Regions from separate parts of the Homo sapiens genome. Here region 1 is linked to region 2. The links come from fine-mapping of genetic effects on gene expression. A gene starts in region 2. The other region holds a variant in brackets. All regions are shown on one strand. Distances are from middle to middle.

Region 1 (5,341 bases), 56 kb after region 2:
GTGATCAGCGTGCTGGCGAAGAAGAGAGCAGAGGCGAAGTCCCAGGCGGGGTCCGAGGCGTTGGCGGACCCCGAAGCGTTAGCAAGCACGACCCGCCCCAGCCGTCCGGCCGCCAGCACTCGCTCCACGAAGGCGTCCAGGGCGGGGGCAGCCACACACGGGCTGCGCTGAAGCAGCTGCGCCCGCAGCGTCTCCAGCTCGGCTCGGAGCCTGGCTTCGTGCGGCCCCTCCAGCCGCGCCACCAACAGCGCGCCCAGCACCAGGTACGCGGCGTACGCGGCCAAGGCGCCCGCCAGAAGCGCGCCCCTCCGCATGGCACCCACCGGGACCCCGCGAGCCCTGGGTGGCCCCGCTGACGTGGCCCCCGCCTCCGGACCGTCTGGCACCTAGTTCCAGTTCCGGGAGTGCTACAGGCGCGGCAGCAGATGCCCCAAGAGGAAGAGGAAAAAGGGGAGGTGGGGGGCGGCGACGGAGGAATGCCCCGCCTCCGGGAAACTGAGGCACGCCCAACCGCCAGGTGTTCGTTCGGAGAGGGTGGAGCCCAGTGCTCCCAGACCCAGCAGACCAACGGGATGGAAAGGGTGGAGGTAGTCCTCTCTTCCCCTCATTCCTTCCTTCTCGTCCTCCTGGAAGGCTGGTTCTCTATGTTAGAAGAATCTGAACTTTCCTCTCTGCTCGCAGGCCGAGGAGTCGCCCCCCATCGCGCACAGCAGCTAAGGTTGTGCACTGCATCAGGGCGCGCGGCTGACGGAGCAAGGGGCAAACTGAAATCCAATTCTCGCTCCATTCGCCAAGTTGTGAGCCTCGGAGTGGGAACAGCGGACACCACAGAGTCAGGTGTCCCCTGTGCCCGTGTGGACAGAGTGGGGATCCTCAGCTACTCACCAAAGCTTTGTTCAATGCCCACTTTCTGCTGACCCCTCGCTGGATGATCCTGGAGACTCAGTAATGATGAGACCATCCTGCGCCATGCATTCATGGGGCTCCCAGTCTAACTGGGAGACTGACACAAGAGTGACCCACGCCTGTTGTCCCAGCTACTCGGGAGGCTGAGGTCGGAGGATTGCTTGAGCCCAGGAGTTCGAGGCTGCAGTGAGCTATGCCTGGGAGAGAGTGAGACCCTATCTCTAAAAAAAAGAAAAAAGACAGCCCAGAGTGGTCAGGGCTGTGATGAGGGAAGCAAGGGTACAATGATCAAGCCTGGAATCAGGGAGCCCTAGAGGGCCCTGGGAGTCCAGAGGAAGCAACCACCCCTGCCTAGGGAGGTCAAGAGAGCTTCCTGAGGAAGGGGCTAGCTGAGCTGAAGCATGAAGGATGAATGGAAACAAGCCAGGCAGAATCACAAATACACGCCTCTATTTAAGAGGAAATTTTTCTTTCTGCGCCCCCCCGTAAGTCTCTCCACTTCTGCCTCCAGCCAGAACTCAGCGCCTTCCTGACAGCCTTTTGGAGGGCAGCCCAGAGTCCTAACCCCATCCGACTGGCAGAGGAGTGGGGCTTGGGGCTCAGCTCAGACATGTCCCAGCTGGTTCTATTAAAGAGCTGGCAGATCACCGGGCAGAGCCCAACTTGGGGTTGACAATCCAGAAGCAGAGGCACCTGATAATAGAATCAGTAACACAATAGGTGCCAGTGATCGAAGGCTTACATTCTGCCAGGCCCTGTGGACACCTGAACTTGCACTGAATTCTCAACCCCGTCCCAATATAATTCCCACTAAACAGATGAGAAAATTTAGGCTTAAAAATGAAGTAGTCATTTGAGACCAGCTCGGGCAACATGGCAAAACCCCATCTCGACAAAAAATACAAAAATTAGCCAAGTGTGGTGGCATGCGTCTGTAGTCCCAGCTACTCGGGAGGCTGAGGCAGGAGGATCGTTTGAGCTCAGGAATTAGAGACTGCAATGAGTTATGGTCGCACCACTGCACTCCAGTATGGGTGATAGAGTAGACCCTGCCTCAAAAAAATAAAAAGTAGTAGTCACACAACTGGTAAGGGGTGAACATGAGGCCAGCAGGAAGCCAATGAACTAATGAACTTGCTTTTTTTTTTTTTTTTTTTTTTTTTTTGAGACAAGAGTCTCGCTCTGTCTCCCAGGCTGGAGTGCAATGGCACAATCTCGGCTCGCTGCAACCTCTGCCTCCTGGGTTCAAGCAATTCTCCTGCCTCAGCCTCCTAAGTAGCTGGAATTATAGATGCCCGCCACAACACCCAGCTAATTTTTGTATTTTAAGTAGAGACAGGGTTTCGCCATGTTGGCAAGGATGGTCTCAAACTGACCTCAGGTGATCTGCCCGCCTTGGCCTCCCAAAGTGCTGGGATTACAGGCGTGATCCGCTGCACTTGGCAGTACTTGCTTTATTAATTAAATATATATACATAAGGCTGGGTGCGGTGTTTCATGCCTGTAATCTCAGTGCTTTGGGAGGCCAAGGCAGGTGGATCACCTGAGGTCAGGAGTTCGAGACCAGCCTGGCCAACATGGCGAAACCCTGTCTCTACTAAAAATACAAAAAATTAGCCAGGTGCGATGGCACACGCCTGTAATCTCAGCTATCGGGAGGCTGAAGCAGGAGAATCACTTGAACCCAGGAGGCAAAGGTTGCAGTGAGCCGAGATCGCATCACTGCACTCCAGCCTGGGCGACAGAGCAAGACTCCATCTCAAAAAACAAACAAAAAAGCAATAAGAAAAAAAAAAACATTTATGGAAGAGATGTATCTGGAGCAACCAGAGCAAGAGAGGGCTGAGGATGAGGAGAAAATGGTGTTGGAGCCCAGGGGACAGAGGCTAAATCAGAGGTGAAGAAGAATGCGGGCATTTCGCTCACAAAAAGGAACCACAGTGGAGCCAGCACTCATCACTGAGAAACCAGGAGCAGCCCTTAAGGTCTCCAAAAAGACAACGTCTCAGAGGAGGAAGAGGAAGCCACAGCGATAGGGTCACTTGCTGACATCCTTCCGGATGCGCTATCGCTGCGCAGAAGTAACTTCCACCACTATGTTTTCCTGAGATAAGTCGGGGAGTCTGAGAGGGAGAGAAGGGGGGAGACTGAGAGTCAGAGAGAGGAGAGACTAAGGACGCTAGGT[G/A]GGCAGGGCTCTTCACTTGCAGGTGCGCCTGTGTGCTGTGAGTTGCTGGGGGTTGTAGAATGCTTTTGGTGGACAGAGGGAACCAGGTTGCAATGTGAGAACATTTTTATGAATTTCTGGGAAACTGCCTTAAGATCTATTCCAAGAGAGACACCTGGTTCTTCTCACCTAACTTGTTGGGTTTCCTTTTCTCACTCTAAATATTCACTTTAAGGCCGGGCACTGTGGCTCATGTCTGTAATCCTAATGCTTTAGGAGGCTGAAGCAGGAGGATGGCTTGAGCCCAGGAATTCGAGACCAGCCTGGGCAACATAGCAAGATCCTGTTTTGACAAAAAATTTAAAAATTAGCTGGGCATGGTGGTGCATGCCTGTGGTGCCAGTTACTGGGGAGGCTGAGGCAGGAGGATCACTTGAGCTCAGGGGGTCCGAGGCAGCCTGGAAAACAGAGGAAGACCCTGTCTCAAAATAAATAAATATTTACTTTAATACCTAAGGGATGTCAAAAATTGTATAAGCCCCTACAACTCCAATTAGCCCCTCAGGAACACAAATGTTTCTCTTTTCCTTGCTCCACAGCCTTTTCTGGCTCTCCAGTGCTCTCAATGACCCAAACTGAACGGCTGTCTGCAGAGAACTGCATTTCCCATCGACCTTTTCGCTCGATATTTACATTTTAAAAAATGTTTTGTAGCGATGGAGATCTCGCTGTTGCCCAGGCTGGTCTCGAACTCCTGGGCTCAAGCGATCCTCAGCCTTCCAAAGTGCTGAGATTACAGGCGTTAAGCCACTGAGCCTGGCTAAATTAAAAAAAAAAAAAATTGTAGGGATGGGGCGGGGCGAGGGTCACTATGTTGCTCAGGCTAGTCTCGAATCCCTGGGCTGAAGCAATCCTCCCGCCTCGGCCTCCCAAAGTGCTGGAGTTAGGGGCGTGAGCCCCGGCAAGGGGCAGACACTCATTTTCTGTCGTGGCAGACACCGCCTCCTCCTGGGATTGGTCCCGGCCTCGCCCTCCTGCCACTCAGGCCTTGACTCGCTTTACTGCATGAGCCCAGTAGCCCAGTCTCCGCCTCTTACGTAAGGCACCGCCCAGTCGTCCAGGCCTCCGTGAAGGGGGGGGCTGGAGGGGTCGGGGGGGTGGGGGCGAGGCCTTCCCTCAATCCTGACGTCCATTGGCTGTCTCTTCGCCGGCGGGGCGTGGGTACGGGAGCCGGGCGGGCACGCTCCGAACCGCGGCTTAGGTGGCGGCGGCGAAGGATGCACCCGGCAGGCTTGGCGGCGGCGGCTGCGGGGACGCCCCGGCTGCGTAAGTGGCGTACGTGGCCGGCGGAGGAGATCGGGCGGGCGGGGGCGTGGCGGGGCGGCCGCGTCGGTTGGCGAGGTCACTGCAGGTCAGAGGTCACGAGATCAAGGATCTGGAACCCTGAGGTGTGCACAGCGCTGGGATGCCAGGTTCGGGTAGGAGGCCCCTTGGGGGGCGATTCTTTAGGAAATTCCTTTAGAAGAAAACAACTTGGGACTGGATAGCGTGCGATATGCAGAGAAATGCAACTTTCATTCATTTGCAGTTAGCGATCCGCCCTTCCCTGCTCCCCACCCTTCCGTGGCTCCCCAGTACCCGCCTGCTGTCGCCCACACCCTTAGGACAGCTTCGTGGCCCCCCGGGAGCGCAGAGGGCCATGCCTACCGCTCATTTAAGAAGCGAACCTGTATTGTGCTGTTGGCCCCCTTTTCCTGTCTCTTCATCTCCGTGAGTGTGCTGTGTGTTTCATTTATTCATTCAACCTAACTTGTCTCAACTCCCATGTGTCAGGCCCTGTGTTGGGATGGAGATGTTGTGGGAGCCCTGAGGAGGCACATGACCCAGCCTAGGGGTGTCAGTGAAGCTTCCTGGAAGAGGATACTTCTTTTTCTTTTTTTTTTTTTTTTGAGACCTAGTTTTGTTCTTGTTGCCAAGGCTGGAGTGCAATGGCGCGATCTCAGGTCACCGCAACCTCCGCCTCCCGGGTTCAAGCGATTCTCCTGCCTCAGCCTCCCAAGTAGCTGGGATTACAGGCGCAGGCCACCACGCCCGGGGTGGTATAGACGGGGTTTCTCCATGTTGGTCAAGCTGGTCTCAAACTCCCGACCTCAGGTGATCCGCCCGCCTAGGCCTCCCAAAGTGCTGGGATTACAGGCGTGAGCCACCGCACCCGGCATGGAAGAGGATAATTCTGATCATGAAAAGTTACCCAGGAGAAGGAGATTTGTA
Region 2 (5,369 bases):
TAGTCAAGCCAAGTCTCAGGACCTCCAAGCCAAGCCCTGACCCTGCACCACTGAGGAGAGAACTAAGCCAGGAGGAGTTCCCAGATGAAGGAAGAGGACCCAAGCAGCCAGAGCTCCAGAAATAAAGGAGCTTCCATGCAACCACCCCCCCAGTTGGGGGCAGGGCCCATTCTCACTTGTAATCAAAGTAGTAGCATTTGAGCTGGGCCATGTAGCGCTCGAAGGAGGGGATGTCCTTGCGTAGGATGCTCCATTGGGCCCCGATCTCCAGTATGTCACCTGTGGGTGACAGAGTGAGCTCTCAGGAGGTGACTGAGGTCTCTTCCCCAACCACCAGTGCTACCATTCCTGCCATGACCCCCAGATTATCACCCCCAACCAACCCCAGTGACACTCACGGGCCAGAATTAGCTGCTGTTTGGTCAGCTTGGTCCCTGTGGTTGGCAAGAAGTTGAGCTCCAGAAGAACTAGCTGATGGGGAGGGGAGGGAGGGAAGAAAGAAAAGAAGGGAATTCAAATACAGATGACTTACCTGCTCTACGCTCTGGTCTTCCCACTTGGAAAATGGAGCTAACCATCATCCAGACTCATGAGGAATGCTTTCTCATAAAGCACTCAGAACAGGGCCTGAGCACGCAACACATGCCCATTTAAGATTACATCACATTACAATTATTAATAGCCCCACTGGGGAAACAAGGAGGGACACTCAGTGCCTGACCCAGTGGAATCACGCGGCGGTGGGGACAGGAGTACATTCCATTCTTGGCCCATCTTCCCCACAATCTATTGGGGAAGGGGTAGCTGGGCTATCCCCAAAATCTATATCTGGGAGGGGGAGGTCCAAATCTCCCCCCACAGTTCAGCCCATACATCTTTCCTTAGCAGGCTCAGCAGCTTGTTCCAAGCCACTGGATTTACACTCCCTCCCAACAGATGTTTGGTCTGAAGCACTCTGGGCCCCGTATTCTTGTTCTCTACTTGTAAGAATATTTCTTCTAGGTTCAGTCCTGCCTTCACAACTAGGCTGCCCCCTCTCCCAACAGATGCGAGCCTAAGCCCCAGATCTCTCAGATCCTAACCCAGCCTGGTCTTAACCACACACCCTCTACACAGCCCACCTTTTCAGCCTCATTCTTTTATCACTCCGGGCAGTCCTCACTTCCCACTTGGTCTTGCCTGGAATCCACCATCAGGAAAAGCCCGAATCCCAATCCTGCCACTCCGACCAGTTAAGCCTCCACGCACCAAAAATCTAACCCCTCACTCAGTTCTGCCATAAGTCTTCCAATCATTCCCCCACCACCCCCGCGTGGGTCCATTCCAGTCATCTCTCACTTAAAAAAAAAATGTAGAGACAGAGTCTCGCTATGTTGCTCAGGCTGATCTTGAACTCCTGGGCTCAAGCGACGCTCCCCCGCCTCGGCCTCCCAAAGCGCTGCGATTACAGGCGTGACCATCAACGCTCCCTGTCCCTCTCTCGCTTCTTGACGCCCTCCGAGCCCCCACTTTGGCTGTTCCAAATCTTTCACCCCATCGGATCCCCCAGCCCGCCTCAGTCTCGCTGGCACCGAGGTGGCTTCCGCGGCCCGGGACTTGGTTGGGTCCAGACACCTCGTAGCGCCTCCCACGCCCGCAACACTCGGTTTCCTGGGCCTGCCGACTTTACCTTGAGTCGACCCAGCTCTTCCCCGCACTTGCTAAGATTGGGGCTTTTACGGTTCCACTCGCCCTTGAGTTGCTCGTACATGCCGGTCGCGGCCTGCAGAACAGCGCCCGAGGTTGCCGCGGGCCCGGAGCTCGAGAAGCCTGCCGCCCCGTTCACCGCCGCGGCCGCCATCTTGCGTGATGCGGCAAGCAGACCGCCTGATTTACGGCAGCGCCGCCTACAAACGCTTGCCCGGCGGAAGTGGGGCCGAGAGGTGGAGCCCAAGGCCCGGGGCGGGGCTACAACCTGCCTCAGCCCGCCCCGGGTAGCCCGCCGTCGCTCTCGAGGTGGCGCCCTCGGAGCCCTGCCCTTAATGAACATGTCAGTTGGAGCTCCGCCTCTGTCGTCACTCAAGATGGTGACCGGAAGTTGGCTTTTGCCCTAACTGAAAATGACAGCTGTCTCAACACCACCCCCCCTACCCACCTCACGGTTCCAATAATGAACATGGCTGCCCTGGCTTCAGTCTGAGTGCTCGGGACGCTACGTAGCTGTCCTGGAGGTTCCGCCTTCGGGGCAGCGTCTCCAAGCCAAAAGGTAGCGGGTGTCGTGCCATTTGGAGAGCTGTGTTATTCTCATTTTATAGACAGACTGAGAGGCTGGGTAACCTTCCAAAGGACTAACAGCTAGGATGTGTACCTGGGGCTCCCTCTCCAGTCTTTTTCAATGCATCCTTCCACATTTTTTTCCCAAGCTTATATGAACTAACTAGTTACAAAACTCATCCAGCTCTATGGCTTTCAATGTCATGTGTAAGTGGAGGATTCACAATTTTTTTTTTTTGAGACGGAGTTTAGCTCTTGTTGTCCAGGCTGGAGTGCAATGGAGCAATCTTGGCTCACTGCATCCTCCGCCTCCTGGGTACAAGTGATTCTTCTGCCCCAGCTTCCCAAGTAGCTGGGATTACAAGCATGTGCCACCACGCCTGGCTAATTTTCGTATTTTTAGTAGAGACGTAATTTTAGTATTTTTAGTAGATGTTGGTCAGGCTGGTCTCCAACTCCTGAACTCAGGCGATTCCCTGGGCCCTGGCCTCCCGAAATGCTGGGATTACAGGCATGAGCCACCTTGCCTGGCCAGTATTCACAACTTCTTATACCAACTTCTTCCTCCACTGATTGATATTACATCTGCACATTCAACATCGCTTTTTCTCTCTTTTTAAAAAAAATTAAATTTTTTATAGAGACAGAGTCTCATTATACTGCCCAGGCTGGTCTCGAACTCCTGAGCTCAAGCGATATTCCTGCCTTGACCTCGCAAAGTGTTGGGATTAGAGGTGTGAGCCACTGCGCCTGGGCAGCACGTTTTTCTCAAACCCGACTTTCACTCTCCGTCTCCACCATTTAGAATGTCATCTCCATGAAGGCAGGACGATTTCCTTCACTACTGAATTCCCAGTATCTCAGTGCTTGGCAAATATTAGTAGACAGTCAATAAATATTTGTTGGCCAGGCATGGTGGCTCATGCCTGTAATCCCAGCACTTTGGGAAGCCGAGGCAGATAGATCACTTGAGGTCAGGAGTTCGAGACCAACCTGGCCAACATGGCGAAACCCCATCTGTACTGCAAATACCAAAAAAAAAAAACAAAAAAACCAGCTGTGCGTGGTGGCACACACCTGTAATCCCAGATACTCAGGAGCCCGAGGCAGGAGAATCGCTTAAACCCAGGAGGTCAGCTTGTAGTGAGCTGAGATTGTGCCGCTGCACTCCAGCCTGGGTGACAGAGTGAGACTCTGTCTCAGAGAAAATAAATAAATAAATGTAAAAATACCAAAAATTTGCCGGGCGTGGTGGTGCACATCTGTAGTACAGCTACTTGGGAGGCTGAGGCAGGAGAAGCACTTGAACCCGGGAGGCAGAGGTTGCAGTGAACTGAGATCGCCATTGCACTCCTGCCTGGGTGACAGAGCGAGACTGTGCTCAAAAAAAAAAAAAGAAAAAAGAAAAAAAGAAAAAGAAAGAAATTATATATGTGTTGAATTAATGAGTAAATTAATATGTGAAAGAAGTTGTGGTGGTAAAAAATGTTTTAAACAAAAATGATGGCCGGGTGTGGTGGCTCAAGTCTGTAATCTCAGCACTTTGGGAGGCTGAAGTGGATGGATCACCTGAGGTCAGGAGTTTGAGACCAGCCTAGCCAACATGGTGAAACTCCGTCTCTACTATACAAAAAATTATCTATCCAGGTATGGTGGCGGGTGCCTGCAATCCCAGTTACTCACTCGGGAGGCTGAGGCAGGAGAATCACTTGAACTTGGGAGGTGGAGGTTGCAGTGAGCCAAGATCGCACCATTGCACTCCAGCCTAGGCAACGAGCAAAACTCCATCTCAAAAAAAAAAAGAAAAAGACACAAATAAACAAAATACCACGTTGATATGGCCAGGCCAGGTGGCTCATGCCTGTAATCCCAGCACTTCGGGAGGCTGAGGCGGGCAGATCACGAGGTCAGGAGATGGAGACCAGTCTGGCTAACACAGTGAAACCCCGTCTCTACTAAAAATACAAAAAATTAGCCGGGCATAGTGGCATGCGTCTGTAGTCCCAGCTACTCAGGAGGCTGAGGCAGGAGAATCGCTCGAACCCAGGAGGCGGAGGTTGCAGTGAGCCGAGATCACACCACTGCACTCCAGCCTGGGTAACAGAGCGAGACTCCATCTCAAAAAACATAAATAGTTTCAAGTATGAGGGGAAATCCAGTCTCTGTCACTCTATCTTGGCTGGAAGTGCAGATGGTGATATTTAAATAACATGTTGACTTGGCTGATACAGGATTATGATGTGTTCACCTGGACCATGAGGTGACTCGGTAGAATCTTGGTGGTGGAAACAACCTTAGCCAGCAGCCCTTACACACATGAGTGTTGCCAACTCTTGTTATTGTCAAATTTCATCAGGTTTTTGTGCTACCAACCATGCCTAGTCAATGCCAACCCCAATGTATTCCTCCAACCCAACACTCTGGGTGAGCACCAACTAGGTGCAATCTCATACCTTTCCTCATTCGCTCCTTCATTCATTCATCTATTAATGCTGACCAAATGCCTACCATGCAACAGGGTATTTTTTTACTCATTTATTTCCTCCTGCCTTCATTCCTCCATCTTGTCAATTCATTGGTCACTACGCATCCATCCAGATTATGGACTGTATAACTAGCCTCAGATGGTGAGGGGAGTTGTCCTGAGGTCAGAGACTGCACTCTGAGGAGGACAGAGAAGAAAAAACTACAGAGAAATGAAGGCTGAATCCTGTGGACCTTGGGACTTTGGATCAAACTGTACCTGAAGCCTGTAAATTACCATTTTCATGTAGACCATTTGAGGGAAATATTTGCTACTTGCAACTAAAATAAGAATCCTGACGTCTCCAGGGTCCCCTCCTTAAGACATTAGATAGGTGTTGACATTCAGAATATTTAACACTGAACAATCAGAACAGATGGTCGGCCATAGCAATGGGCCTGGATTGTGGAGGATCCTGCTGGACCACAGGGAGGTCTGGGGTACACTGGGGAGAGGCTCAGCCAACAGGCACACAGAGAAGCCACTATTTAACAGGTGGCCTAGAAGGTTTTTGATATTTTATTTATTGTTTTGTTTTGTTGAGTCGGAGTCTTGGTCTGTTGCCCAGACTGGAGTGCAGTGGCGCAATCTT

What was found. PIP is the estimated chance that this variant, and not a neighbour inherited with it, causes the effect.
Region 1: its variant is fine-mapped to the expression of PSMD8 in tibial nerve (GTEx, PIP 0.91).

The regions. Positions count from the first base shown.
Region 1 is chr19:38,314,924-38,320,264 of GRCh38, reverse strand. It overlaps YIF1B (Yip1 interacting factor homolog B, membrane trafficking protein), which reads left to right and starts at 4,318. Exons shown (of 8, transcript NM_001039672.3): 1 at 4,318-4,405. The coding sequence starts at 4,348. It overlaps KCNK6 (potassium two pore domain channel subfamily K member 6), which reads right to left and starts at 420. Exons shown (of 3, transcript NM_004823.3): 1 at 1-420. The coding sequence starts at 314. RefSeq lists silencers at 238-327, 3,994-4,483 and an enhancer at 1-592. The variant G/A (reference allele first, on the strand shown) is at 3,092.
Region 2 is chr19:38,371,262-38,376,630 of GRCh38, reverse strand. PSMD8 (proteasome 26S subunit, non-ATPase 8) reads right to left here and starts at 2,060. Exons shown (of 7, transcript NM_002812.5): 1 at 1,670-2,060; 2 at 399-471; 3 at 177-279. The coding sequence starts at 2,029. RefSeq lists enhancers at 1,751-1,890, 1,521-2,151.